4 linked regions of the Homo sapiens genome follow. The protein of the gene in region 4 interacts with the protein of the main gene of each other region in a biochemical or structural test. Each region holds a gene or a part of one and is shown on either strand. Other genes may lie near its edges. The genes, in order: RNF20, RNF40, PPARG and KIF11.

Region 1 (7,027 bases), on a different chromosome or scaffold from region 4:
CCTAAATTTTACAATTTTACTCCCTCATGTGCAATTAATCTCTCATTCATTCAGCTGTCATTCATAGAGTGGCAGTAGGTCTTTACTCTGGTAGGTACTGGGCATATAAAGATGAGATGACAAAATTCCTGCCCTCACAGATCTTGTAGTCTGCAGTAATGGGAGAATAGTATCCATTAGAATGCAATGTGGTACAATGGCAGCATAGCCAAAAGATGTGATACATGAGAAAAGAGTGTCTGATTTGACTGTGGAAGTTTCCTGATTCCACTTAAAAAAGTAAGGTATAAATATTAAGGATAAATTATTGGTAGTTGAAAGTAGGAGAAGAAGAATTCCCGGCATGAGAACAGCACATATAAAGGTATGAGAGAGCATGAGAAATAGTTTAATATGGCTAGAGCTTACGTGTATGTGAGAAAATAGTGGGTAGAAGCTGCAAAATTACTTACATTTCTTAAACAAAAAGCATATAATGGCACCAGTAGATGATTTTTTTAAAAGATAGAAACTTTTATTCATATGTTCATTTCTGTATCTTCCATAGTTTTTAAGGTAATGGTTATAATAGTTGGTCTTTTAATATATGCCTGACAAATGAATTGAATACTATTTTACATATGTTTATATACTGTTTTATAGTTTAGTTCTCCAACTAAATTCTAATATTCTCAGAATTGGTGGCCATTTTCTTTATTTTTCAGTATCCTGTCAGTTTCCAAATTAGTCTTTTGTAGATATCTGGTTTCATTACGTATAGATTGAACTGGAAATTTTCAGAGTAATCCATAGAATATGATGATATTTCTACATTTTAATAAGAATTTTTTTATTGGTTCCTTTATCTGTGTGTAGCGAGATGAGGTTAGTCTTCATAAGAAGCTGAGGACTGAAGTAATTCAGCTAGAAGATACATTGGCCCAGGTCCGCAAGGAGTATGAAATGCTGAGGATAGAATTTGAGCAGACCCTTGCTGCCAATGAACAAGCAGGTATAATGATTCTCACTCCATGCTGTAGTTTGCTCTTAATACCTTCCTTGAAAGATACAACACAGACCCCAGGGTTTGTTAATGCTGACTTCAACTCAGAAGTCATAAGTACCTTAAATCCTATAATTCATTTTGGTTCACAGCCTGGATGTTTGTTTTTTAACTCAAGTTGACCAGTTTTGTTTTCATCTTCTGAGAAGGAATCTTTTATTTGGTAATTCTCCCTATTTCTCAGTGCCTCCTGATGTGTTCTGTTCTTTCTCTCCTTGTGCCTTTGCCCTTACCACGGTTCCTCATAACATTGTTGTTCCTGTATTTAAGGCCCTATAAACAGGGAGATGCGCCACCTCATCAGTAGCCTCCAGAATCACAATCACCAGCTGAAAGGGGAGGTCCTGAGATATAAGCGGAAATTGAGAGAAGCCCAGTCTGACCTGAACAAGGTAACCAGAGGGAATAGAATAAATATCATTTGCTATTAATGTCGTAAAGCTGCTTTTGAATGAGGTCGGCAATGTGGTTATCATAAGAGATGTGCATCTTTCTTTTCTTTATTCTCCCAGACACGCCTGCGTAGTGGTAGTGCCCTCCTGCAGTCCCAGTCTAGTACTGAGGACCCGAAGGATGAGCCTGCGGAGCTAAAACCAGATTCTGAGGACTTATCCTCCCAGTCCTCAGCTTCAAAGGCATCTCAGGAGGATGCCAATGAAATCAAGTCTAAACGGGATGAAGAAGAACGAGAACGAGAAAGGAGGGAGAAGGAGAGGGAACGAGAAAGAGAACGGGAGAAGGAGAAGGAGAGAGAACGAGAGAAGCAGAAGCTAAAAGAGTCAGAAAAAGAGAGAGATTCTGCTAAGGATAAAGAGAAAGGCAAACATGATGATGGACGGAAAAAGGAAGCAGAAATTATCAAACAATTGAAGATTGAACTCAAGTAAGAACCACATTTAGAGTAACAGTTTCGACTGAAAAGCTAAGATTAAGACATCATGCATGAAATGTTTGGTTGATGGCATGGCTTGTCTGATCGTTTTAATGTTTTAGATTGTACAATTAATTTGGTTTCAAGTCGTGTTCAAGTGCACAGCCAAAATGGCTTGCATGGCTATTTAGTACTTTGGTTCAGTGATCGAGTATCAGCAAACCGATGATGGTAGCCTTATTTTTATGAATCCAAATTAAGGAAAAGGATGTCATGATTGAGGTAATACTTCTGAGAATTATTGGGAATTAACTACTGCTCTTCACTGGATTTGAGCAGATTGCTGGCGTTAATTGTAATTTAAATGATATTAAGTGGAGTATTTATATATCACTGTAACTTGAACAATATCTGATCTATTTGCCTGAGAGTTAACTGGTTTGTGAATATGCCATATCTTTCTTAGGAGATTTACTCCTATACACATTGACACACTAAGATAGACCTTTAACTTGTTGAATTTTTCTGTGTCATAACCTTATGCATTGGCCCTTCTCCTGTATAACCAATAACTTCTCTGGCAGAACGGCTTACTTCTTGCTCCTTACTTTCTATGGTTGATCCTTTGTTGATGTTTGGACTTGAGAGACCACTGTGCTCAAAATGCTTGAACTCTTTTGGTATATAAAAGTATAGTTAAGAGGTTTAGTAATTTAATAAGAGGTGAAGTTTTAGTCTTTGGCTGATGGTTAATCACTCAGCTGTCAAATCTAGGATTAACAGTATATCTCAGACTTTCAAATTTTTCCCTTTTATTTCTCCCTCTTGAACTCTTTAAGGCAATTTTTTTTTTTTCTGGTGTGGTATCAGAATCATCTGAGTGACTTGTTTAAATCACTTGTTTAAATTTTTGAACTCCATCCCCAGACCTACTGAATCTCAGTTACCCAGGGTTGGGGGCCACAGAAATTTGCCTATATAACAAGTACACAAATGTCTGTTTTATAACTTTGTTAGAGGACTTTGAAGGGAGAAATGATTCATTTTTATACAGCTTACTTTTCTGTACTTTCTAAGCATATCCAAAAGTCTTTTGATAGTCTGTGCAAAATTTTATCTTTTAGGTGTGATATGAAATGTAAAATGAAACTGTTTTAAAATATTCTGCTCAATCAAAATTCCCTTGCTCTGATGACCTTTATTTTCTTATTACATTGTTCCCCTCCCTCTACTACGCCTGTCATAGGAAGGCACAGGAGAGCCAAAAGGAGATGAAACTATTGCTGGATATGTACCGTTCTGCCCCAAAGGAACAGAGAGACAAAGTTCAGCTGATGGCAGCTGAGAAGAAGTCTAAGGCAGAGGTATTCTAGTCTGCTATTACCTGTCCTTCTGGTTAAAATCTTCATTTGTGGGATTTTCCTTTATACTTGCCAACGATATAATTTCTTTCTTTATCTTTAAAATAAGTGTTTAAGTGCAACATTTTCTGCCTTTTCAAAGACCATCTGAAGTAGAGATTTTAAAACTCTCCATAGGATGGTAAAATATATCTGAATTACTGGGGTTATGAGTAGGCTTTCCAAAGTATGTATTCCTTGTTTTTCCTATGTAATTCATTGCTACAGGGATAATCTTTTTCATTACTTTTGGGAGGAATGTCTTATGCTCTTAAAATTTTGAGGCCTAAAAAAAAGGATGGGAACCACTATTCTAAAGAAAGTTACCTGTGCACTTCTCAAAAGTGTTGCTTATAGAAGCATGTCATAGTAGAATGGAGTGATGTTAAAACAGATGGTGTTATGTAATGTTTTAGTATATTATGTACCTTGTTCTATAATTCTGTAAAGACTCTTTTGGTATTATGAACCTTCTATCTTTGCACAGTATTAATTGATTTTTGAAAATGTGTTATAACTTTTTATTTTTGTGCAATTCCTTTCCTCTTATAGTTGGAAGATCTAAGGCAAAGACTCAAGGATCTGGAAGATAAAGAGAAGAAAGAGAACAAGAAAATGGCTGATGAGGATGCCTTGAGGAAGATCCGGGCAGTGGAGGAGCAGATAGAATACCTACAGAAGAAGCTAGCCATGGCCAAGCAGGTGGACTCACTTTCTTTATTTAATTGACTTTTTGAGTAAATGTTACTTGACAATAAGTTATTGCCAGTGAAATTTGCTTTTTTATTTTGGTCTTTTTTTGATTGTTAATGTGTATTTTTCCTTTTTGTGTGTGTGTTTTAATTCTTACCTTCAAGTCTTTTATCTTTCTGTTATTTTGTTTTGTGTATTTGTGAGGCAAGAAATTTACTTTTATTTAAATGGACATTTATTGAAGATCTAGTCTTTCTCTGCTGTTGTTCAGACAGTTATTGAAGATCTAGTCTTTCTTTGCTGACCTGGAATTAAGGGTTATAGTGAATATAAAATGAAAAATAAGACATAAGATTTTATATACATTATGATTACAAATATATGAAACTAAGAAAACTATGCTTATAAATATATATCATTATATATTTCTATGTAGTACATATACTACACAGAAAAACTATGCTTATAAATATGTGATTTATATATAATAAGGATATAATCTATTAACCAATATAATAACATTGATTAAGCAGTATGTTAACTATGGCTATTTTGGGGTCATAGAACTATAGAGATTGTTCTCCTCCTTATAATGAATATGTATGTATTTTTAAATGCCAGGGAATTTTTATTAAAATTCAATAATAAAGATACTGAAAATGCTTGAAAAAACCATATATGTATTCTCTGTTAGTACACCTTCATTGTTTCTAAGAAATAGCAAAATAACAGTGAGATGGAGTAGGTTTAATGGTAAGTTGATCATGAAGTGCCTTGAAAAGAAGAACTTCATTAGATCCTATACACATTCCTTTTGTTAACAAGTGTAATTTTGGGCTGGGCGCGGTGGCTCATGCCTGTAATCCCAGCACTTTGGGAGGCCGAGGTGGATGGATCACCTGAAGTCGGGAGTTCAAGACCAGCCTGACCAACATGGAGAAACCCCATCACTATTAAAAAAAAAAAAAAACAAAATTAGCTGGGCTTGGTGGCGCATGCCTGTAATCCCAGCTACTTGGGAGGCTGAGGCAGGAGAATTGCTGGAACCCAGGAGTGGAGGTTGCAGTGAGCCGAGATGGCGCCATTGCACTCCAGCCTGGGCAACAAGAGCAAAACTCCATCTCAAAAAAAAAAAAAGTGTAATTTTGACTTTTCTTAAATCTGGTAAATGCCACTTTTTTTTTTCTTCCCTCTCTCTTAAGGTAATTATCAGGAAATTATACTATTATAGGTTCTAGAACAAGTAAAAAGAAAGACACTATGTTCTTGTATACGATGACTATCTTAAAAATGTTCAGTCTTTCTAAGTTTATGTATTAATATAATGTGATCTCATAAAAGTGCTTTTTTTAAGTTTTGCTTTTGTTTATTTTGGTACTAGAAGAACTGGTTTTAAAGTACATGTGGAGAAGTAAACAAGAGTAACAAGAGAAATTGAAAAAGAACAGCACTGGGGTCTCTTCCATATATTAAAACATAAAGTTTCTGTAGATGAAATAGCTTGGGACTACTAGACAGGCTATTAGAACTGAATAGAAACTTGAGAAGTAGTTGAAAGTACACATGATACTTATTATGTGCTAAATACATAGTTTTAAATCAGTGGGGAAAAGAAAAACTGTGACATGTGATGGGACAAAATTAAAAAAAATAATGTTAGAGAAAAGTTAGATACATACTTGAATACACTAGGATGATTTCCAAATGGATCATAGATATGATATTTTAAAAAATGCATCCATCAAAAAGCTAGAAGAAAACCATTAAATTCCTTTATAATTTGGAGTGGAGACCTTTCTATGAATAAAAGGCTAGAAAACATGAACAAAAAATTGATAATTTTGAGTTATTTTTTAAAATGATGCAAAACTTCTACACTGCAAAAAACACTGTTAGCAAAGCCAAAAGATTAAATGACAAAAAGTAAAAAATATTTTTAACTTTTATTACAAAGAAGGCTTATCTGATACAAAAAAAACTCTCCAAAATAGGGAAAAAAACTCAAGAATCCAGTGGAAGAATAGGCAAAAGAAATGAGTTGGTTATGGAAAGAATACAAGTGGTCTTAACCATATGAAAAGATGCTCAGTCTCACTTAAAATGAGATAGATATAAAGTAAAGCTATTATTAGATACCAGTCTTCACCTATCAGATTGTTACAAGGCTTTAGATGTTTGCAACTGCTGGAAATCCTGTAGATCCAGTATTTTAATTGTGGAAAAGCATGAGAAAATGTGAGAGGTTATGATGGAAGTACTCTTAACCAATTGCTGCTTGATCCGTTTGTCTAGATTAAGGTAAATACAATTATTGTCTAATTTAACTGACGTTGAGTACAGATCAACTAATAAGTATCAGACCAACAATTGGTGCCAGTGACTTCAGATAATAGAGCTTCTGTATGCCTAGTGACAAAACACAACTTCTTAAAACTCTGTCACTAAATTAATTTATATCTAAATGAACAGTGGGAAAATTTAGTTTCCTGTGCTCTTCCATTGAAGTTGGAAGATTCTTCTAAAATCAAATCTCTTCCTTCATCCTTTAGGAAGAAGAAGCACTCCTCTCTGAAATGGATGTCACAGGCCAGGCCTTTGAAGACATGCAGGAGCAAAATATCCGTTTGATGCAGCAATTGCGGGAGAAGGATGATGCAAATTTCAAGCTCATGTCAGAGCGTATCAAGTCCAATCAGATCCATAAGTTGCTTAAAGAAGAGAAGGAGGAGCTGGCAGACCAGGTGTTGACTCTGAAGACTCAGGTAATTAGGATGAGTAGAGCTTTCTATTCTGTTGAAATAGGGTGCTTTCTACATGATGATATAAGTAAAAGAATGATTATTGTGGCACATTTTTGTGATTGGAAAAAAATTTGAAAACTAAATGTTCATCATTAGGGTATTGGTAAATAAATTATACATCTCTACTGTTATTCCTACAAAAGAGTACAGTGTACTTGTCAAATATGGATCTGCTAATATGGAAACATGTCTGAAATAAAATCAAGTGACGTGTTTTGTT
Region 2 (7,027 bases), on a different chromosome or scaffold from region 4:
GCCTTAGAGCAGGTGGGGCAGGGGTGCTGGGGCAGGTGAGGCAAGGCTGGGCCCTTGGGCCTTAGCTCCTCCCCTCTACATCCATTGCCTGTCTGTTTTCTCTCCACAGCTTAACTCTGGCTACTATGTATCTGGGAGCTCCTCAGGCTTCCAGGGGGGCCAGATCACACTCAGCATGCAGAAGGTGAGCGGCGTTTTCCTCCCACCCCTTCTCACAACCTCTTCTCTGTTGCACTCTTGAAATTCCCCTCAGGACAAAGGACAAACATCCATCTCTGAGGCCCTTCCTGGTCACTCCTGCTGCTCTTTTTTTCATGCATTCATATACTTGTTGAGTAGATTTTTGAACACTTAGTGCTAGGCACTAGGCATATTGGCGAGAACAAAATAGAGGTCAAAACTTTCATGGACCAGACAAGAAATAAATAAAAGAATATATCTTTAGGTTCTACTTGTGGTAACAGACAAGAAATCAGTAAAATAGCATATCAGTGTGTTATGAGTACCACAAAGATAAAGCACAGAAGAGAGAGCTAAGAGTGAGTTGGAGTCAGTTGGCATCTGGTGGTCACTGTGCCCTTTTTCCCTTTATTAGCACTTTAGGCCTTTCTGGAATGCCTTCCGTGACTCCCCATCAGTTAAGAGCCTTAGTTCCCAGCACCGACCATGCAGTATTGAATTTTCTCCCATTTTTCTGGGAGCCCTTAGGAAAGTACTTGGTTTGGGGTGTCAGAATCGATCATTGCCCTGCACGGGGTGCTTGGGGTGGAGTGTATGCTGGGGATGTAAGGGAGGCCTGCTGCCACGTCTGGCCCTGCCTCCCATGGCCCTGCCTCCCACTCCTTAGTTTGAGATGCTGAATGCAGAGTTAGAGGAAAACCAGGAACTGGCCAACAGCCGTATGGCAGAGCTGGAGAAACTGCAGGCCGAACTTCAGGGGGCTGTGCGGACCAATGAGCGCCTCAAGGTGGGCTGCTGTAGGGGCTGAGAGGTCCTGGGCCTGTAAGGGAGGGACTGAGCCCTGAATCCTGTTGCTGATCCCATTTGGGCATCCCTGCCCCAGGTGGCCCTGCGGAGCCTTCCTGAGGAGGTAGTGCGGGAGACGGGGGAGTACCGCATGCTGCAGGCCCAATTCTCACTGCTCTACAACGAGTCTCTGCAAGTGAAGACCCAGCTAGACGAGGCTCGGGGCCTGCTGCTGGCCACAAAGAACTCCCACCTGCGACACATCGAGCACATGGAGGTATGGCCCTGGAACAGGCGTTAGGGCTGGGCTAAGGGCCAAACCGTTAGTGTTGACGTGTTTGTGCCTTCCGAGGCCCTGTGTGCCAGCCAGGGGTCCCTGGGGAATAGATTCTTCCTAAGATACTGAGTCCTGAGGTGGGACCGAGGGGCTGTGTGGGTCCTTAACACATCAACCCACAGAGCGACGAGCTGGGGCTGCAGAAGAAGCTACGCACAGAGGTCATTCAGCTGGAGGACACGCTGGCCCAGGTACGCAAGGAGTATGAGATGCTGCGCATCGAGTTTGAGCAGAATCTGGCGGCCAACGAGCAGGCGGGTATGTGGTGAGGATAGGGCGGAGGTGGGGCCTTATCTGGGAGTGCTGGGCCCTGGTGTGGGGCTGCTGCTTATCCAGATGCAAGAGGCTAAGGCCTTTTTTTTCACAGAGCCTCGGCTTCCTATGCAAAACAGGGCCTGCACTGCTTGGCTCCCAGGCACAGTGAGGGTCCGCCAGCTGGGGTGGCTGATGGAGCAGGCACATGCAGAGTCTGAGCTGTCAGCCCTGTCCTCATTCTTCTGGTCTGATGACGTCTCTGTCTCTCAGATACTTGTGTTACAAAGATTTATCAAATGCCACCTCTGAGCCAGGCTCTGTTCTAGGGTTTGGGGTTATGCCAGTGAACAAAACAGAATTCCTGCCATGTGGAGCAACATTCTGATAGAAGACAGACTAGAGGAAGACGAACTAGTAGAAGAAAAATGGAAAATGTGTTAGCTCTTGACAGATAGGAAAGTAAAGCAGAAAAGGAAGATAGGAAGTATCAGGAGAAAGGGTGTTGCAATTTTGAATAGGAGGCCAGGGAAATGTACTGGGAAGGTGATATTTAAGAATCTAGAAGAAGTTAACTAACTTTTGTGAATGTTACAGTTACCTTCTCTATTAAAGGGAATTGGATGTATAAAAAAAAAAAAGAAAAAACCTAGGCCAGGTGTGGTGATTCATGTCTGTAATCCCAGCACTTTCGGAGGCCAAGGTGGGAGGATCACTTGAGGCCAGGAATTTGAGACCAGCCAGGGCAACAAAGTGAGACACTGTTTCTATTTAAAAAAAAAACAAAAAACCCCACATATTCTATATTAGCAAAAATCGTATGAATAGGCAGTGTCAAGTTAATTTTGGGTGAGTTTCCTTGAAGTCAGCATTATTTACTTTGATGAGTTCATGCTCCGTTGAGGCCGCAATGTTCCCCTCCTGCACAGTGGGAGTGATGGCATAGCCTCTTACCCCACTGAGGGGTTGGAGTCCTAACCCAGGAACTGGTTCTGACACCTTTACTTGCTGATGCTCCTCCAGGGCCCATCAACCGTGAGATGCGCCACCTGATTAGTAGTCTTCAAAACCACAACCACCAGCTAAAAGGGGACGCCCAGCGATACAAGCGGAAGCTTCGAGAAGTACAAGCTGAGATTGGCAAGGTGAGAAGGGGCCTGCCTGGGAAAAGGTTTGGCTAGACTCCAGTGAACACCATCTGACTTCATCCCTCTTCCTCTCTGCCTTTGCAGCTCCGGGCCCAGGCCAGTGGCTCTGCCCACTCCACCCCCAACCTGGGCCACCCAGAGGATTCTGGCGTCAGTGCCCCAGCCCCAGGGAAAGAGGAGGGTGGGCCAGGCCCTGTCAGTACCCCCGACAACAGAAAGGAGATGGCTCCAGTGCCTGGCACCACCACTACTACCACTTCAGTGAAGAAGGAGGAGCTGGTCCCCTCTGAAGAGGACTTCCAGGGTATAACCCCTGGGGCCCAGGGCCCTTCCTCCCGGGGCCGAGAACCTGAGGCCAGGCCCAAGCGGGAGCTTCGGGAACGGGAAGGTCCCAGCCTAGGACCTCCACCTGTAGCCTCCGCTCTCTCAAGGGCTGATCGGGAGAAGGCCAAGGTGGAAGAAACCAAGCGGAAGGAATCAGAACTCCTCAAGGGTCTCCGAGCAGAGCTCAAGTGAGGCTCTGTTCCTGTCTCCTTCCTGACCCTGCCAGGTGGCCTCCAGTCCCACTCACTAAGACTTCCTCCTGTACCTTCTTGCCAGGAAGGCCCAGGAGAGCCAGAAGGAGATGAAACTGCTGCTGGATATGTACAAGTCAGCGCCCAAGGAGCAGCGGGATAAGGTGCAGCTCATGGCAGCGGAACGCAAGGCTAAGGCCGAGGTGAGGGCAGCTGGGGCTTGTGGGGCATTCAGAAAGGCAGAGCAGAGTCCTAGCTCAGCAGGAAGCAGTGTCAAGAGAGTTTCTTCTTCCCTGTGCTATAGGTTGATGAGCTGCGGAGCCGCATCCGGGAATTGGAGGAGAGGGATCGAAGGGAGAGCAAGAAGATCGCGGATGAGGATGCCCTGCGGCGCATTCGGCAGGCAGAGGAGCAGATAGAACACCTGCAGCGCAAGCTGGGTGCCACCAAGCAGGTGCGGCCCATGTGGTGCCCTCGCGTCGGAGCGCAGGGAGTTCCCTTCATACCCTGTTTGGTGCCTCTAGTGCCTGCAGGACCTTGATGATCTGGGTCCCCTCTGTAGTTCTTTGCTTCGCTGCGTTTTCCCATGGTTCCCCCACAGCCATCCTGTCCACTTCCCACGTTCCATCTTGTCTCTGCCCACTTGCTGCAGGAGGAGGAGGCTCTGCTCTCAGAGATGGATGTGACAGGTCAGGCTTTTGAGGACATGCAGGAACAGAACGGGCGGCTGCTACAGCAGTTGCGGGAAAAGGATGATGCCAACTTTAAGCTAATGTCAGAGCGGATCAAGGCCAACCAGATTCACAAGCTGCTGCGGGAGGAGAAGGATGAGTTGGGCGAGCAGGTCCTTGGCCTCAAGTCCCAGGTATGGCCGCCGCCAGCTTGCAGACTGGAGCTGGAGAGGTGGGGGTCATGGCCCTGAGTCCTCCTCTGGTCCTTAGGTGGATGCCCAGCTGCTGACTGTGCAGAAGCTAGAGGAGAAGGAGCGAGCCTTGCAGGGCAGCCTCGGGGGTGTGGAGAAGGAGCTGACGCTGCGCAGCCAAGCCCTGGAGCTCAACAAGCGGAAGGTGAGGCTGGGCCAGGGGGACACACAGCTTGGGCTGCTGGCTCACCTCCTCACCTTCCGGTTCTGCTCAGAGCACCCGATGCAATAGCCTGAGGTGAAGCCAGGCTGTCACAGAACAGCTCACACATATTGAACATTTACATGTGCCAGACCACATGCTGAGTACTTGACATGCTTGGTCACATTTCAGTCTCACTAATCCTATCAAGATGGTGTTTACGGGCGTGGTGGCTCACGTCTGTGATCCCAACACTTTGGGAAACAGAGGCGGGAGGTTTGCTTGAGGCCAGGAGTTGGAGACCAGCCTGGGCAACATAGTGAGACCCCATCTCTACAAAAAAATTTTAAAATTAGCTGGGTGTGCTGGTGCACGCCTGTAGTCCCAGCTTCTCGAGCAGGCTGACAGGTGAGAGGATCACTTGAACCCAGGAGGTTGAGGCTGCAGTGAGCTATGATCGCACTGCACTGCAGTCTGGGTGACAAGAGCGAGACTCTGTCCCTAGGGAAAAAAAACAAAAGATTTTTGAGTTGGAGTCTTGTTCTGTCGCCCGGGCTGGAGTGCAGTGGTGCGATCTCGGCTCACTGCAACCTCCGCCTCCCAGGTTCAAGCAACTCTCCCAACCTCAGCCTCTCAAGTAGCTGGGATTACAGGCGCGCACCACCACGCCTGGCTAATTTTTGTATTTTTTTTTAGTAGAGACAGGGTTTCGCCATGTTGACCAGGCTGGTATCGAACTCCTGACCTTGTGATCCACCCACATTGGCCTCCCAAAGTGCTGGGGTTACAGCGTGAGCCACTGCACCTGGCTGGATTTTGTTTTTAGCCTCGTTTTATAAATAAGGAAACTGAGGCTCAGGGAGGTGGATTGTTCTGCTCAAGAGGGAGTGGCCCTAATATTTGGGTCCAAGCCTCCTTGACTCCAGGCTCTACCTTCTAACCACTCGCTGGTGAACTGTAAAGTGGGGATGATGTTCTTTGTCACATAGTTGTATTAAATAGAAGAAATGTCTAGCTTTGGCTAAAGGCTTAAGATTAACATTGATTTCCATTTCCTCTGAAGCTGTTTTCTTCTCCAGTTAGTTCATTCATTTAAGCAGTATGTTTGTGGTTTTTTTGTTGTTGTTTTTTTTAGACGGAGTCTAGCTCTGTTGCCCAGGCTGGAGTACAGTGGCTCGGTCTCAGTTCACTGCAACCTCCGCCTCCCAGGTTCAAGCGATTCTTCTGCCTTAGTGTCCCGAGTAGCTGGGACTACAGGAGCCTGCCACCTCGCCCAGCTAATTTTTGTATTTTTAGTAGAGACGGGGTTTCACTGTGTTTGCCAGGCTGGTCTCAAACTCCTGACATCGTGATTTGCCCGCCTTGGCCTCCCAAAGTGTTGGGATTACAAGTGTGAGCCACTGTGCTTGGCCCATTTAAGCAGCATATTTTACATCCCTGCTATGTACTAGGCCTTGCGCTGATTGCTGTGGAGACATTGGGAACAAGAAGGTCCCTGCCTTCCAGTCAAAGCTGGAACTTCAGGTCTTGGCAGGCAGAGCAGGCCAGTAATCCCCCAAATAAAATAGTGCATGTCACAGTAAGCCTTGTGCAGGAATCTGAGGTGCTGTCAAAGAAAAATAGGGGAGCCTTTTAGGAGGTGACACTTGAGCTGAGGCCCAGGGGAGCTGCATGTGTGGTGGGGAAGTTGAGGGGAGCAGAGAGGAGAGCCTTGTGAAAGCTCAAAAACCAGACAGCAGGCCAGGCGTGGTGGCTCACGACTGTAATCCCAGCACTTTGGGAGGCCGAGGCGGGCAGATCATGAGGTCAGGAGATCTAGACCATCCTGGCTAACACGGTGAAACCCCATCTCTACTAAAAATACAAAAAATTAGCTGGGTGTGGTGGTGGGCGCCTATAGTCCCAGCTACTCGGGAGGCTGAGGCAGGAGAATGGTGTGAACCCAGGAGTCGGAGGTTGCAGTGAGCTGAGATCGTGTCACTGGACTCCAGCGTGGGGGACAGAGTAAGACTCCGTCTCAAAAAAACAAAAAACAAAGAAACCCCAAAAAACAGCATCACACGGGAGGAACTGGAGAGGGAGAACAGGAGGGGAGGGCTTAGGGCTCAGGAGGCAGGAGCAGCTCCAGGGCAGGTGTCACTGGGGCCCTGGACAGAAGCATTGGTGGGCCGTGACTCCACATGCCTGAGTCACCAGGCTCAGACCAGTGCCTCCTTCCTGTTCCACCCTACTCAGGCTGTAGAAGCCGCCCAGCTGGCCGAGGACCTGAAGGTGCAGCTGGAGCACGTGCAGACTCGGCTGCGGGAGATCCAGCCCTGCCTGGCAGAGAGCCGGGCTGCTCGTGAGAAAGAGAGCTTCAACCTCAAGAGGGCTCAGGTGTGTGCAGGGGTGAGGGGCCAGGCCAGGGTGGTCCACGGTCACGGACCTATCCTGGGGGCAAGCGGCTCAAGGTTGAGGACCCTTGCCCTTAGCCAGGCCTCTCCTGCCCCAGGAGGACATCTCACGGCTGCGGCGCAAGCTGGAAAAGCAGAGGAAGGTGGAGGTCTACGCAGATGCCGACGAAATCCTCCAGGAGGAGATCAAGGAGTACAAGGTGGGGCTGTGGGCCAAGTTGTGCCCTATCCACCTGAGAATTGTAGATGCAGGATTGCTGAGACTAGTGGAGAGTCTGGGGACCCTGGAAGTAATGTAGGGCAGCAGAAAGTGGGCAGCACAGTGGTCACAGAGTCAAATGCTGTTTGCTGT
Region 3 (7,027 bases), on a different chromosome or scaffold from region 4:
CTGCCTCAGCTTCCCGAGTAGCTGGGATCACAGGCATGCACCACCATGACCAGCTAATTTTGTATTTTTAGCAGAGATGGGGTTTCTCCATGTTGATCAGGCTGGTCTCGAACTCCTGACCTCAGGTGATCCACCCTCTTTGGCCTCCCAAAGTGCTGGAATTACAGGTGTGAGCCACCGCACCCGGCCTCAGGGCATTTTTTCTTATGAAGATGACAGCCGAAATCTTCAATCTTCAACTCATGCAAAAGTTTGCCTTTGGAGTGAATTTCTTGGCAATCTGCTTGGTAAGAAAAAGCAAGTGGTGTTAAAGTGAGAGCATTAAAATAAAATTGCTCCAAAAAAATGATAAATAAATAAAAGAAAAGAAAAAGGAAAAGCAAGAGGCCCATGCACAGATACACAGAGGAGAGTGGCCCCTCCTCCATAAGCCTGTTTCATCAATGAGAGAATCAAGAGAGTATGTATATACAGAAGAGAGTTTCAGGGTCAGTCTTGAGTTTGCATCTTCTACTTCCTAGCTAGAGGACCTTGAACAATTCACTTTACTTCTTTGGTCCTAGCTTGCTTATCTATAAAGTGGGAATAATATTTCAGATTATGCAGAAGAAAAGGTAGGATGTACCGGGCACATGGGAAGTGCTTGATCAATACCAATTTGCTTCCCTCCTTCCCTGCCCCTTCTGCTGAAACTTCACAGCTATCTCATTAAGTCATCAATGTATTTAGTATTTAATAAATAAATATTTAACGAGCACCTACTATGAGACAAGCCCTTTGTTAGCCAGTGGGGATATGACTGCAAACAAGAAAGATACGCCTATGATTTGATGAATCCTGGAGTTTATGAGCAGCTCATCTCTGTCTCCCGTGTGAGCAGTCCTAAATTTACACAGCTCTCCACTGGTGTTTTTGACCACAGAGTTAACATTTAAAATACCTATGACTGCTTTTTTGGCACCACTTTGAATAATGAACTGGTGTCAGGTAAACAGAGTCCAGGTACCTATTGCAGAAAGTTTTCCAGTCTGCACCCTCGGTGGCTCACAAGTTCACATGAAGTGAACCAAAAGAGTTTTGTTGCACTTACTGTGACAATAAATCATGTTTAGAAAAATGCATGTGGCATACATGATATTGGGCAAATGATTCATGAAACTTGCTATTCTGTGGCCTTAGAATCCATGTAAGCATTTTTCCTTTGTCTTTTATGTGTTTTCTTGTTTCTATCTCTGTTTTGTTTTGTTTTTGTTTTGGGGATGGTTTAAAATTAATGCTGGGCTAGAGTCTGATTTTGACACTCTCGGGTGTGATCAAATGTTTCCACATATCTCTCTAACCTTTCTATTCTCAATGTGGGGAAAACTTTCTCCGCTTTAAGAAAAGGTGTATCCACAGAAAAGATTATTGAGTAATTTTTCATAGTACAGAAGTAATAATTGAGTGATTTTTCCCTTTAAAATTTTTTTATTTTTGTATTATTTTAAGAACAAAATTATTTTAGGATGCAATTAAAGAAGAAGTTCATTTACCTAAATTTAATTTGCCAACTTTTCTATTACACAAAAGCATTATAAATACAAGTAGAATAGCAAAAATTTCATCCTAAAGAGAAAAATATTTTGGGCTTCTAATTTCAAGAGAGTAAAATTGTCCTGGAACCCTGTGCACACTTTAAAAACAATCATTAACAGATTGCATCAAACTAGAAACTTCTTCACCACAAAGGAAATAATCAATAAAGTGAAAAGCCAGCCTACAGAATAGGGGAATCTGTACATCTGATATGAAGTTATGGATTGCAAATCGTACATCTGATATGGAATTAATATTCCAAAATATGTAAGAAACTCAACAAACTCAATTGCAAGAAAACAAATAACCCAGTTAAAAAATGATAAAGGAATATCCATTTCTAGAAAGAAGACATACAAGTGGCCAACAGATATATGAAAAGGTACTCACCATCACTAATCATCAGGGAAATGCAAATCAAAACCACGGTGAGATATCATCTCACACCCATTAGAATGGCTGTTATCAAAAACACAGAAGATAAGAAGTGTTGGCAAGGATGTGGATAAGAGGGAACCCTTGTACACTGTTGGCAGGAATGTAAATTGGTATAGTCATTATGGAAAACAGAATGGACTGCCTCAAAAAATTAAAAATAGAACTAGCATATGATCTAGCAATCCTACTTCTGGGTATATATCCAAGGGAAATGGAATCAGTATGTTGAAGAGCTATCTGCTCTCCCATGTTCACTGCAGCATTATTCGCAATAGCCAAGATATGAAATCAACCTAAGTGTCAATGGATGAATGGATTTTTGAAAACACAGTATATATCTGTATATATATACACACATACATATATACACATACAGATGTATATGTACACACCCAATAGAATATTATTCAGCCTTAAAAAGAGAAGGAAATCCTGTCATTTGCGACAACAGAGATGAACCTAGAGGACGTTATGCTAAGAGAATTAAACTGGGTGGTATTTGACACAGAAAGACAAATACCACATGATCCACGTGGAATCTAAAAAAGTCGAACTCATAAAAGCAGTGAGTAAAATGGTGGTTGCCAGGAGCTGGAGGGTGAGAGCAATGGGGAGATATCAGCCAGAGTTTCAGTTATGCAGGATAAGCTCTGGTCACCTTCTAAGGTGATCATCTGCTAAGTATAGGTCACCTTCAGCATGGTGACTATAGTTAGTGATACTGTATGGTATATTTGAAATTTGCTAAGACAGTAGATGTTAAGTGTTCTCACTACACATATTCATACTCAAAAAGGTAACTGTGAAGTGATGAATATGTTCATTACCTTGATTATGATAATCATTTCATAGTAAATACGTATATTAAAACATCACATTGAATACCTTAAGTGTTTTGTTTGTTTTTTGGTTTTTTGGGTTTTTTTGTTTTGTTTTGGTTTAGGTTTTTTTTGAGGTGGAGTCTTGCTCTGTCACCCAGGCTGGAGTGCAGTGGTGTGATCTCACCTTACTGCTACCTCTGCCTCCCAGGTTCAAGTGATTCTCCTGTCTCAGTCTCCCAAGTAGCTGGGATTACAGGCGTGCTACCACACCCGGCCAATTTTTGTATTTTTAGTAGAGATGAGGTTTCACCATGTTGGCCAGGCTGGTCTCGAACTCCTGACCTCAGGTGATCCTCCTGCCTCCGCCTCCCAAAGTGCTGGGATTACAGGTGTGAGCCACTGTGCCTGGCCTGTATACCTTAAGTTTAAAAATTTTTGTCTATTATACTCAATAAAGCTGGACAAAATTTTAAATAAATAACAGCAGTCATTAACAGACTCAATTGATGACCTAATGTAGAAGTTAATGAGAGCAGGCCTGTTGGCAAAAAGGCATTTATATGGATACACTGTATGTATCTGCACTGTTTCAGGATCCTCTATTATGATACCTGGGTAAAGGGTGACTTCCTTTCTATCATAAAACAGCCTAGACAGCACTAAGAAGGTGGTTATGTTCTTTTCTGTTGTTGTGAGCGCCCAGATGAGATTACTTTGCCAAAGACTCTTTTCATTTCTCTTTCTGAAACTCTGTGAGATTGCTGTGTTCTCTAGGACTTAACTTCACAGCTAGTCTATTTTTCCTTTCAGAAATGACCATGGTTGACACAGAGATGCCATTCTGGCCCACCAACTTTGGGATCAGCTCCGTGGATCTCTCCGTAATGGAAGACCACTCCCACTCCTTTGATATCAAGCCCTTCACTACTGTTGACTTCTCCAGCATTTCTACTCCACATTACGAAGACATTCCATTCACAAGAACAGATCCAGTGGTTGCAGATTACAAGTATGACCTGAAACTTCAAGAGTACCAAAGTATGATGTTTATTTTCACTTTTCAGACTACTAGGACTAGAATTGGACTCATCTCTCAGTAACCCTGTAATAAATAATGCTCCAGAGACTAGAAATCTAATAGAGAAGGCATTCACCATTCATTTATTCACCCATTTATCCATGAAATATTAGGTATCTATGAAATGCCAGGAAGGGAGCTGGCACGAGGTCAATCTTGCCTTCCCCGCCCCCTCCTTCCTTCCTCTCTTCTTTCCTTTCTTGCTTACTTCCTTCTTAGGGACATTTTCTACCTTGATTACACTGTCAGTTGTATCTCAGGCTAAGAGTCCATCATCCAAACTTTGAATTATTTTGGCCCCTTATAAGTTAATAAGTAACAATTCCAAGTCACTTTGTATTATATAACTTATCTTCACTATATTACTGCTACTACAGTACATTTTTTCTAGTATGTCCTTTCAGGAGTTTATACTGAAACCTACTTTTAAGCACAAATTTGTTTTAACATTGTAGCCTATTGATAAATTTTCATGCCATTAACTAAATCAACATCAAAACATCAGACTCAAGAAAAACTAGAACTGCACTTTTTGAGATAAAATGTATTTCTGTGATGCTATTTCCTTGATTTTTATCATGTGTGGGCTGACATGCTGGTTTTCCAAAGCCACCACTATGTAATTGGCAATCATTACTTGACAAGTAAGAACTTCCTGTATTTCTAGTGGCTTTTAAAGATAAATAATATGCTTAGTTATATTTATCTATGCGGTTTTCAGTTAGAGCCTAATATGGAAATTTAGTAGCCCTGAGCCCAACTAGTAAAAGGTAGGGCTTACTTCCATAAGTTCCGCCACGCTCTGTCAAAGATTATTTCACAAACCACCTCCTTTGACTGAACACTAATGGTAACCTGGGCTCATATTTTTCATGCACCTCAAGCTAGGCATACCATGACCTTTTCACAGTGGTGTTCCTTCTGTGGTTCTTTTGCAAGTTGTTTCAAAGTACTTATAAAATGGAATATTTAAATAAAATGTATAATTTAATATTGTGATGAATACCAAAGACAGAACATTTCCTAGCAAAATAAGCTTCCTTGTCTCAAATCCTCTATGTTGTCTGTTACAGCTGTAGTATTGCAGGCTACTGGGGGTCATAGAACCACAGACTTAATTCTCATTCCCATTTTATATTTACAGGTGAGGCTTAGAGATGTTATAACTTGCCTGTGATTACAAACCTTTCTTTTTCTTGCCTTAACTCCAGTGTTTTTTCATGTTCCACTGTGCTTTTACACTGAAACAATACAAATACAGCATGAAGGTGTACTATGGTGGCTTGCCCTGTTGCCTTTTTAGGACTGTTTTCATGGGATAATTATCCTCTCACATGTCTCCATACACAGGTGCAATCAAAGTGGAGCCTGCATCTCCACCTTATTATTCTGAGAAGACTCAGCTCTACAATAAGCCTCATGAAGAGCCTTCCAACTCCCTCATGGCAATTGAATGTCGTGTCTGTGGAGATAAAGCTTCTGGATTTCACTATGGAGTTCATGCTTGTGAAGGATGCAAGGTAATTAAAAAAAAAGTCTTCAAAGAAATTGTTGAAACTTTATTATTTCATTTCAGCAGAACCCCTTTTTTAGGTGATACAATATATGAATTTTTTTTCTTCATGGAAGAGTATCTTGCTCTGTCACCCAGACCAGAGTGCAGTGGTGCTATCCTAGCACACTGCAGCCTTGAGCTTCTGGGCTCAAGTGATCCTCCCACCTCAGCCTCCCAAAGGATGATATAAGATTTGAAAGCCTAAGAAAGTGGATAAAAGTTGGGCTGCTTTGCCCCACATTTGTTTCTCCAAATTGATTCTTTGAGACACTGATCTAATTTAATCCTTGCATCTTGCAGATTTTTACAAAAAGGTGACTTCTCCAAGGTGTCATGGCAAGACAGTGATGACCTGGAACCAGGATGCAGATTTCCTGCATTCTCTAGTTGTTTATTTATTTATTTATTTATTTATTTTGCTATACCGTGTAATATTGTATAGACAGAAGATTTTACAGATTATTTATATATGCATATCTTTGGATCCCTAGAGCAATCCTATAAGATTGGACTTCTTTATGGCCACATTGCAGATGTAGAAATTACAGGTTAGTAAAACTTGCCAAGGTCATCCCTTAGTAAGTGGCAGACCGCAGTCTAGACCCTGACTCCTTAGGTGGTGTTGGCTCTCAAAGCAGTGCCTCATGTTTCCTTATTCCAGCATCAATGTGAGCCACATACACGGACAGGTAAGGAGGTATAACAGTGTGGGAAAGGAGATACTATTTATCCTCATCTCTTTCCTTTGTGAAAAGGGTATTTTGGAAAATTCAGACGTTTAGTAATTTATTGCTTAATTATTAAGAAAATATGTGAATCCACTCATATTTTGATATGCAGTCTTTTAAGATAATTTTAATATACACAATGCAAAAATAGTACTAATTTATTATATACGCATTGCACAGAATAAACTGTTCATAAATATTCACTTTATAAAATAAATACCTGCTTATTGGGCTTTTTATTCAACGTAAAGATACAGAACAACAGTTAGGAAAGTTTTAGGACATCTTGGTTCCTAAATGGATGGTGGGCCAAAAAAGGAAACTGATTTTTATTGAATTCTTACTACATGCCAAATACTGTATGAGGTAACGTTTTCATACATCAGTATTTAACCACATCCTACCCAGGTTTTCTCATCTATAAAATGATTGTGGCTGAGTGTGGTGGCTCACGCCTCTAATCCCAACACTTTGGGAGGCCAAGGCAGGAGGATCACTTGAGCCCAGGGGTTCAAGACCAGTCTGGGCAGCATAGTGAGACCCCATCCCTACAAAATTTTTAAAAAATTAACCAGGCATGGTGGCACATGCCTGTAGTCCTAGCTTCTTGGGAGGTTTAGGTAAGAGGATCCCTTGATCCCAGAAGTTCAAGGCTGCAGTGAGCTATGATCATACCACTGCACTCCAGCCTGGGTCACAAAAGCAAGACCCTAACTCCAAAAATAAATAAATAAATAAGTAAATAAATAAAATGACACTGAATTACATGATCTCTAAAGTCCCTTCAATTGAAACAGTTTTTACTCTAAAGGCAACCTAATACAGTGAAAAG
Region 4 (7,027 bases):
GAAAGGTTTCATGAGCAAAGATGATCCTTTCAAAGGTCATTTAATGGCAATGCTGTGAAAAGACAGTGGCCAAGGCATCCATTCTCAATGCAGAAGATTTACTAAGATCACGGGCCCTGGAGCCAGACTGTCCACGTTCAGATCTGCCACTTAAGAGCTGAGTGATCTTGGGAAGTTATATATCCTTTGAGTCTTAATTCCCCATTTCAACAGTGTCATTCTCTTTTCCTATAGGAAATCTAAGGATATAGTCAACAAAATGACTTTTCACAGTCAAAAATTTTGTGCTGATTCTGATGGCTTCTCACAGGAACTCAGAAATTTTAACCAAGAAGGTACAAAATTGGTTGAAGAATCTGTGAAACACTCTGATAAACTCAATGGCAACCTGGAAAAAATATCTCAAGAGACTGAACAGAGATGTGAATCTCTGAACACAAGAACAGTTTATTTTTCTGAACAGTGGGTATCTTCCTTAAATGAAAGGGAACAGGAACTTCACAACTTATTGGAGGTAATAACTTTGTAAGTGGAACTTACTTTGGGGAGAATAATAATCAGAAAGTTAAATATTCTTGGCTAAGAATAGATTTCAAAACAAATGATATTTTAAGCTATAATGACTTAAACTTTTAAGTATAATATTTGGTATGCTTACAGATGATCTCGTTTTGTGCTTTGTTATATGTCTTCTCAATCTTGGAATTAATTTAACATTTGTACAGTTTCTTTCCTGTATTTATCCTTGGTTTCTGACTTAGTAGTTTCTTCAAAGAAGGGCACCCTGTCTTTTGATATGTAATACCTTCCACTTATATATGCTTTTTTTTTTTTTTTTTTTGAGATGGAGTCTCACTCTGTTGCCCAGGCTGGAGTGCAATGGCACGATCTCAGCTCACTGCAACCTCCGCCTCCCAAGTTCAAGCGATTCTCCTGCCTCAGCCTCTCGAGTAGTTGGGATTATAGGCACCTGCCACCACACCCGGCTAATTTTTTTGTATTTTTAGTAGAGATGGGGTTTCACTATATTGGCCAGGCTGGTGTCAAACTCCTGACCTCATGATCCACCCGCCTCGGCCTCCCAAAGTGCTGGGATTACAGGCATGAGCCACTGCGCCCGGCCTATCTTTGCTTTTTACTTTTCTCCAAGTACATTCAAACCTATTATTATTTTAAGTATTTAGGTTATTGTTCTGGTAACTAAAGGATACTTGATAGGTTTATGGATTTGCTTGAACTTAACGCTTGCATGAGCCCTTTGTAACTTGGTTTTTTCTTTCTTTGCATTAATAGGATTTTACTAACATTCTCAGGAAGTAGGTACAAAGAATTAAAATTTTTAATCTATATAAGCTGTTTTCACTAAAAGGAACTAGAGTTTGTATACAAATAGCTAATTTCAGATTTGTGATAGGAAATGTATAATATATGAGCCTAGAGATCTTGTCATACCAGAGAGTAAGGAAGCTGTTAAAGATTTCTGAGGTTGTCAAAAGGTCTTAGTAGCCAACCTCCCCATCTTCAAAGGTGGCATAATTTGAGCATCAAAAAGAATAATGGCCATAATGGATTAAAACATATCAAATATATTAAAACTTACGAACTCATAAAAATTTCATAGGTCTCCTTTGGATCATGCTAGGGAAGCAACACATTGTCCTGAAAATGGGTAAAGAAGAAGAAAAAATTTAGCATCCATCTGTCTTTCCTAAAAGAACCATATCTTGGTTTAGCAGGGTAATGAAGAAAAGTGTTTCATTAGACTCTAAGCTAATAAAATGGAGAAGAAATGATAGAATTAATATATCACCAGTATGCAACTCTTAATAAAATAACCCCTGTGGATGTTAATGATGGCTTAAACCATTTGATCAAAAGCTGTTGGGGAACTTTATAATTAATAGGCTAACCATACCTGAACTCACTGATAAATCTTAACATGAGAGACACAGCAAAGCATTTTGTGCTTGCAGTACTACCTATGAAATACTCTTGCTAAAAAATTAAACCTGAATTAAATCAAGCCTTTAGGTCTAACCAGTTTGTAGAAAATAAAGCATAGAAATGCAGTTGACCAAATCCAGAATTTGAGATGTTCAATGGGGTAAAGACCTCATGTCTTCAGCAACAAGTTTTTTTTTTCAAGGGAAAAAATATGAGAAACAATAACCTGTATATCAAAAGAGACTTAAGACTAGAGGTCCTTAAGTCTTAGTTTGCCTGAGACAGTCCTTGTTGATATTGTTGTATTAGAATGATTATTAAGAATGGGCCCTTTCACTCCAAAAGGTGTCCCAATTTGGATGATAAATTATATAGTCACCGACTTAAGACCTATGAACCAAATCTAGTGGTGAATTCTGGTTCAAACAAAGCAATTGTGACACACATTTGAGACGACTGGTGAAGTTTGAACATGGACTAGACATTTGATAGGAAGGAATCAGTGTTAACCTTTTTAGATGTGATAGTGGTCTTAAAGTGCTCTTACCTCTTAGAGATACATGCTGAAGTAAATGGATGAAATGATACAGGATTTGTTTCAAAATAATCCTGGGTTTATGGAGGAGTTGAGTGGCCAGTCCTGTTGGTAAATGTCTGTACTCCACTTGTTGGTAAATGTTGAAGCTGGGTAATGAATACAAGGGAGTTAATTATACTGTTCTCTCTACTTTTGTATGTGTTTTTAAATCTTTTATTACTGAAGGCCAGGTGTGGTGGCTCATGCCTGTAATCTTTGGAGGTCAAGGTGGGCAGATTGCTTGAGCCCAGGAGTTTGAGACCAGCTTGGGCAACATGGTGAAATGCCATCTCTTCAAAAAATACAAAAATTAGCCAGGCATGGTGGTACATGCCTGTAGTCCCAGCTACCTGGGAGGCTGAGGTGGGAGGATGGCTTGAGCCTGGGAGGTCAAGGCTGTAGTGAGCACTACTCATGCCACTGCACTCCAGCCTGGGCAACAGAGTGAGACTTGTCTCCAAAAAAAAAAAAAATTATGGAAAAGGTAAGGGAAAATATGATGTTGAATAAAACACTGGCAACTTTAATTTTAGTAATAAATATTTATTTGCATCATTTACAGGTTGTAAGCCAATGTTGTGAGGCTTCAAGTTCAGACATCACTGAGAAATCAGATGGACGTAAGGCAGCTCATGAGAAACAGCATAACATTTTTCTTGATCAGATGACTATTGATGAAGATAAATTGATAGCACAAAATCTAGAACTTAATGAAACCATAAAAATTGGTTTGACTAAGCTTAATTGCTTTCTGGAACAGGATCTGAAACTGGATATCCCAACAGGTACTTTAAAAGAGAAATAGAATTGTTAAATTTTTTGAAGTCGAATTCAACTCTATGTAGTGTCAGATGTTCAGAAAAATTAGGTCCTGCCATTGCCTGACAGAAATTTAACATCTCACTGTAATCAACTCAAAATGGGAAAACTGGAACCTTAAAATAGTTTTAATCAAGTGTCATGATACAGGTGGTATCACAATTCAGTATAATTTCACATACTTTCAGGGAGTTGACTTTGTTAATAGGGGATTTTTTAAAACAAATACAAACCTAGCACTGTTTGTAAAAGGACATTTTAATACCACAAATATGGGAGAGATGTAACTGACTAAATCTAGTTTAATGCAAAGTTTACCACATTGTGCATTTTGTTCTGTGTCCCTCTCATTTTGTCATAGACTATTGCCATTTAGGAATCCCTGTTTTAAGAGATCAGGGATCACCATGGACCATTAGCATTTAGGAATCAACATTTTGAGAGATCACATATGGCAAAGATCATTATAGGCTGTAATGATTCAGGGAGGTCTTCATGGAAGAGATGTAACAAGCTGTTTTACACAGCATGAATAATTGGGTTCTTCATTGGATTATGGTAATGGTTGCACACCCTGTAAACTCACTAAAATCCACTGAATTGTACACATAAAATGAGTGTTTTATGGTATGTAAATTATATCACAAAACTCTTTTTTTTTTTTAATTTAAAAAGCAATTGTTAAAAGGGGATGGTGCTACATAGAATGTTGGTTTATTTATTCCCCAAGAGACCTGTAGGATTTACTGTCTACTTTTCAATGAAGTTAGGAATGTAAATGTTGAGTGAAAAGGCAAGTACTTTTGTAAATCATGAGAGCATGAGCTTATTACAGAGAAATATAACTGGGGGCCTGATGCGGTGGCTCACACCTATAATCCCAGCACTTCGGGAGGCAAGGCAGGAGGATCGTTTGAGCCCAGGGGTTCAAGACCAGCCTGGGCAACATAGTATATGTATATAACTAGTTAATATTTAACCACCACACCACATTTATAGTGAAATGATTACTCCTATCAAAGTAATCATGTTGGGAAATCTACTCATTCCAATAATGCTGCCATTTTTTTCAGAACACTATAACTCCTTTTAGAGCTTATAACACATCTTTTATATATCCTCAGAGATGGTAAACTTCATGTTTTAGAGAGTAGGATGAATCTTGAAAACAGTAAAGTCTGTCATCAAATTAGAAAGTATTGTTAGTTGCAAACAATGTCTGACAGGTAGCAAGACTGATCCTCATATATGGCAATTATATTTTTATATTTTTAGAAGACAAGATTAATTAGGAAGTTTTAGGTTTTTTTAAAAATATTTACATCTCATACTTTAATTTTTACCTCTTATCTAATGTCCGTTAAAGGTACGACACCACAGAGGAAAAGTTATTTATACCCATCAACACTGGTAAGAACTGAACCACGTGAACATCTCCTTGATCAGCTGAAAAGGAAACAGCCTGAGCTGTTAATGATGCTAAACTGTTCAGAAAACAACAAAGAAGAGACAATTCCGGTAAATTTAAAGGATCATATTTTATAATAGAACTCTTTTATGAACTCTTGATGTGGCTGACTTCATGTGAAGAATTTTACTGTTTACCCCTCAATCTTACCCCGCCTCTCATTAATGATAGGCCTAGCCCTTAGGCTTGTTTCTTTTAATCTTACTAGTTTTTAAATTATGCTAGTAGATAATAATAGCCAATACTTAATATTGTGCTTAGTAACATTGTTATATAGGAACCTCTACTCTCTATAAAAATATATTAGGAATTATTTTCATTAATTTGTAGACTTTCTAATAATTTTGTTGAGGTTTAACTTTTATATTATACCATGGGCATTGTGTTATACTCAAAGCTGCTGTTACTCTTGTGATGACTTTTAAGCCCTTGGACTTAGTCACTCATCCAGTTTCTTCTTTTAGGATGTGGATGTAGAAGAGGCAGTTCTGGGGCAGTATACTGAAGAACCTCTAAGTCAAGAGCCATCTGTAGATGCTGGTGTGGATTGTTCATCAATTGGCGGGGTTCCATTTTTCCAGGTATGTCATATCAGATAACCCTTCCACATCTGATGTAAGTCATTCATTTACTATTCATTATAAAGGTATTGTTCGTGGTGAGCAGAACAACAAAAACCTTTCAATTATTCCTTAGGATGGCTTGTTAACGCTTATGATTTGAATTATTTACAAAAATCTGATATTGATAAGGGGTTTTCTGTAGAATAAATGAAGGCAGAATTTGACTTAATCTACATCCTTAGCTGATAATCTTTAGCTATTGTATTTATTCCTTTTCTGCTTGCTATATACTCAGACACTGAGAGCAGTCATTTCTCTTCCTTCTACCTTTGACATGTAAGTCTTGGAACCTATCTCTGCCCATAATCAGACTTTGAAGGCAAAGTGATTGAAAAGATTGAGAGACTGGAGGCCTCTTAGGTTATATTAGTGATTTCTCCTGCCTGAGGCTCTTCTCTTGTAAACTGTTGCCCCATGTTTCCTGAGCACCTTGCCTGCTCTAATCCAGTGTAATTAAATCCTGTGACCTCTCCTACCCACTCTTCTTTTTTTTTTGAGACTGAGTCACCCAGGCTGAAGTGGAGTGGCACGATCTTGGCTCACTTAACCTCCGCCTCCTGAGTTCAAGTGATTCTCCTGACTCAGCCTCCCGGGTAGCTAGGATTACAGGCATGCACCACCACACCTGGCTAATTTTTTTGTATTTTTAGTAGAGACAGGGTTTCACTATGTGGGCCAGGCTGGTCTCAAACTCCTGACCTCAAGTTATCTACCCTCCTCGGCCTCCCAAAGTGCTGGGATTACAGGCGTGAGCCACTGTGCCCAGCCCTCTACCCACTTTTTTTTTTCTTTTGAGACGGAGCTTCGCTCTTGTTTCCCAGGCTGGAGTGCAATGGCACGATCTTGGCTCACCGCAACTTCCACCTCCTGGGTTCAAGTGATTCTCCTGCCTCAGCCTCCCGAGTAGCCAGGATTACAGGCATGTGCCACCATGCCTGGCTAATTTTGTTTTTTTTTTTTTTTTTTTTTTTTTTTTTTTTTTTTTTTTTAGTAGAGGGGGTTTCTCTGTGTTGGTCAGGCTGGTCTCGAACTCCCAACTTCAGGTGATCTGCCTGCCTCGGCCTCCCGTAGTGCTGGGATTACAGGTGTGAGCCACCGGCCCGGCCCCTCCTACCCACTTTTTAACACTGTTGAGAACATAGTTGGTTTATGATTCATCTCAGCATTGATGACTGAGTACACAATCAATGTCACCAGTCCCTTAATGTTCTCTATGGGTAAGTAGGAGGATTCCAATGAAATACAACTTCCAAGTGAGGCTCTATAAAGTGCTGGTATCTTTTCCTCTAATTTGAGGGTACAAGCCTAGACAGAGTGTGTGAAGGAAAAATTTCCTTACGTAGGACATTGGTATCTACATTTACAGTTGAAGTTCTACTTCTGAGATGCATATGCTTGTACCTTTTTTTTTTTTTTTTTTTTTTAAATATATATAGAGAGAGGGTCTTGCTATGTTGGCCAGACTGGTCTTGAACTCTTGGCCTCAAGCAGCCCTCCTACCTCAGCCTCCCAAAATGCTAGGATTACAGGCATGAACCACTGCGCCTGGCTGCTTGTACCTTTTTTGTGTGTATGTCTTGTTTTGTTTTTTTGTTT

The links.
Region 1: the proteins of KIF11 (region 4) and RNF20 form a complex in vitro, tested with the Homo sapiens proteins (one study listed by BioGRID).
Region 2: the proteins of KIF11 (region 4) and RNF40 form a complex in vitro, tested with the Homo sapiens proteins (one study listed by BioGRID).
Region 3: the proteins of KIF11 (region 4) and PPARG interact in a test that uses a peptide from one of them, tested with the Homo sapiens proteins (one study listed by BioGRID).

What each region holds. Positions count from the first base shown.
Region 1 is NC_000009.12:101,550,829-101,557,855, forward strand, and holds part of RNF20 (E3 ubiquitin-protein ligase BRE1A), read left to right. Parts: intron 1-855; coding exon 856-991; intron 992-1,312; coding exon 1,313-1,434; intron 1,435-1,554; coding exon 1,555-1,925; intron 1,926-3,159; coding exon 3,160-3,277; intron 3,278-3,865; coding exon 3,866-4,015; intron 4,016-6,555; coding exon 6,556-6,768; intron 6,769-7,027. UniProt on the Homo sapiens protein: Component of the RNF20/40 E3 ubiquitin-protein ligase complex that mediates monoubiquitination of 'Lys-120' of histone H2B (H2BK120ub1).
Region 2 is NC_000016.10:30,765,316-30,772,342, forward strand, and holds part of RNF40 (E3 ubiquitin-protein ligase BRE1B), read left to right. Parts: coding exon 1-12; intron 13-109; coding exon 110-184; intron 185-847; coding exon 848-967; intron 968-1,063; coding exon 1,064-1,243; intron 1,244-1,425; coding exon 1,426-1,561; intron 1,562-2,578; coding exon 2,579-2,700; intron 2,701-2,787; coding exon 2,788-3,215; intron 3,216-3,303; coding exon 3,304-3,421; intron 3,422-3,522; coding exon 3,523-3,672; intron 3,673-3,870; coding exon 3,871-4,083; intron 4,084-4,159; coding exon 4,160-4,285; intron 4,286-6,517; coding exon 6,518-6,658; intron 6,659-6,773; coding exon 6,774-6,875; intron 6,876-7,027.
Region 3 is NC_000003.12:12,376,060-12,383,086, forward strand, and holds part of PPARG (peroxisome proliferator-activated receptor gamma), read left to right. Parts: intron 1-3,644; coding exon of another isoform or gene 3,645-3,652; coding exon 3,653-3,872; intron 3,873-5,262; coding exon 5,263-5,432; intron 5,433-7,027. UniProt on the Homo sapiens protein: Nuclear receptor that binds peroxisome proliferators such as hypolipidemic drugs and fatty acids.
Region 4 is NC_000010.11:92,645,129-92,652,155, forward strand, and holds part of KIF11 (kinesin-like protein KIF11), read left to right. Parts: intron 1-234; coding exon 235-514; intron 515-3,083; coding exon 3,084-3,306; intron 3,307-4,706; coding exon 4,707-4,858; intron 4,859-5,272; coding exon 5,273-5,389; intron 5,390-7,027. UniProt on the Homo sapiens protein: Motor protein required for establishing a bipolar spindle and thus contributing to chromosome congression during mitosis. Required in non-mitotic cells for transport of secretory proteins from the Golgi complex to the cell surface.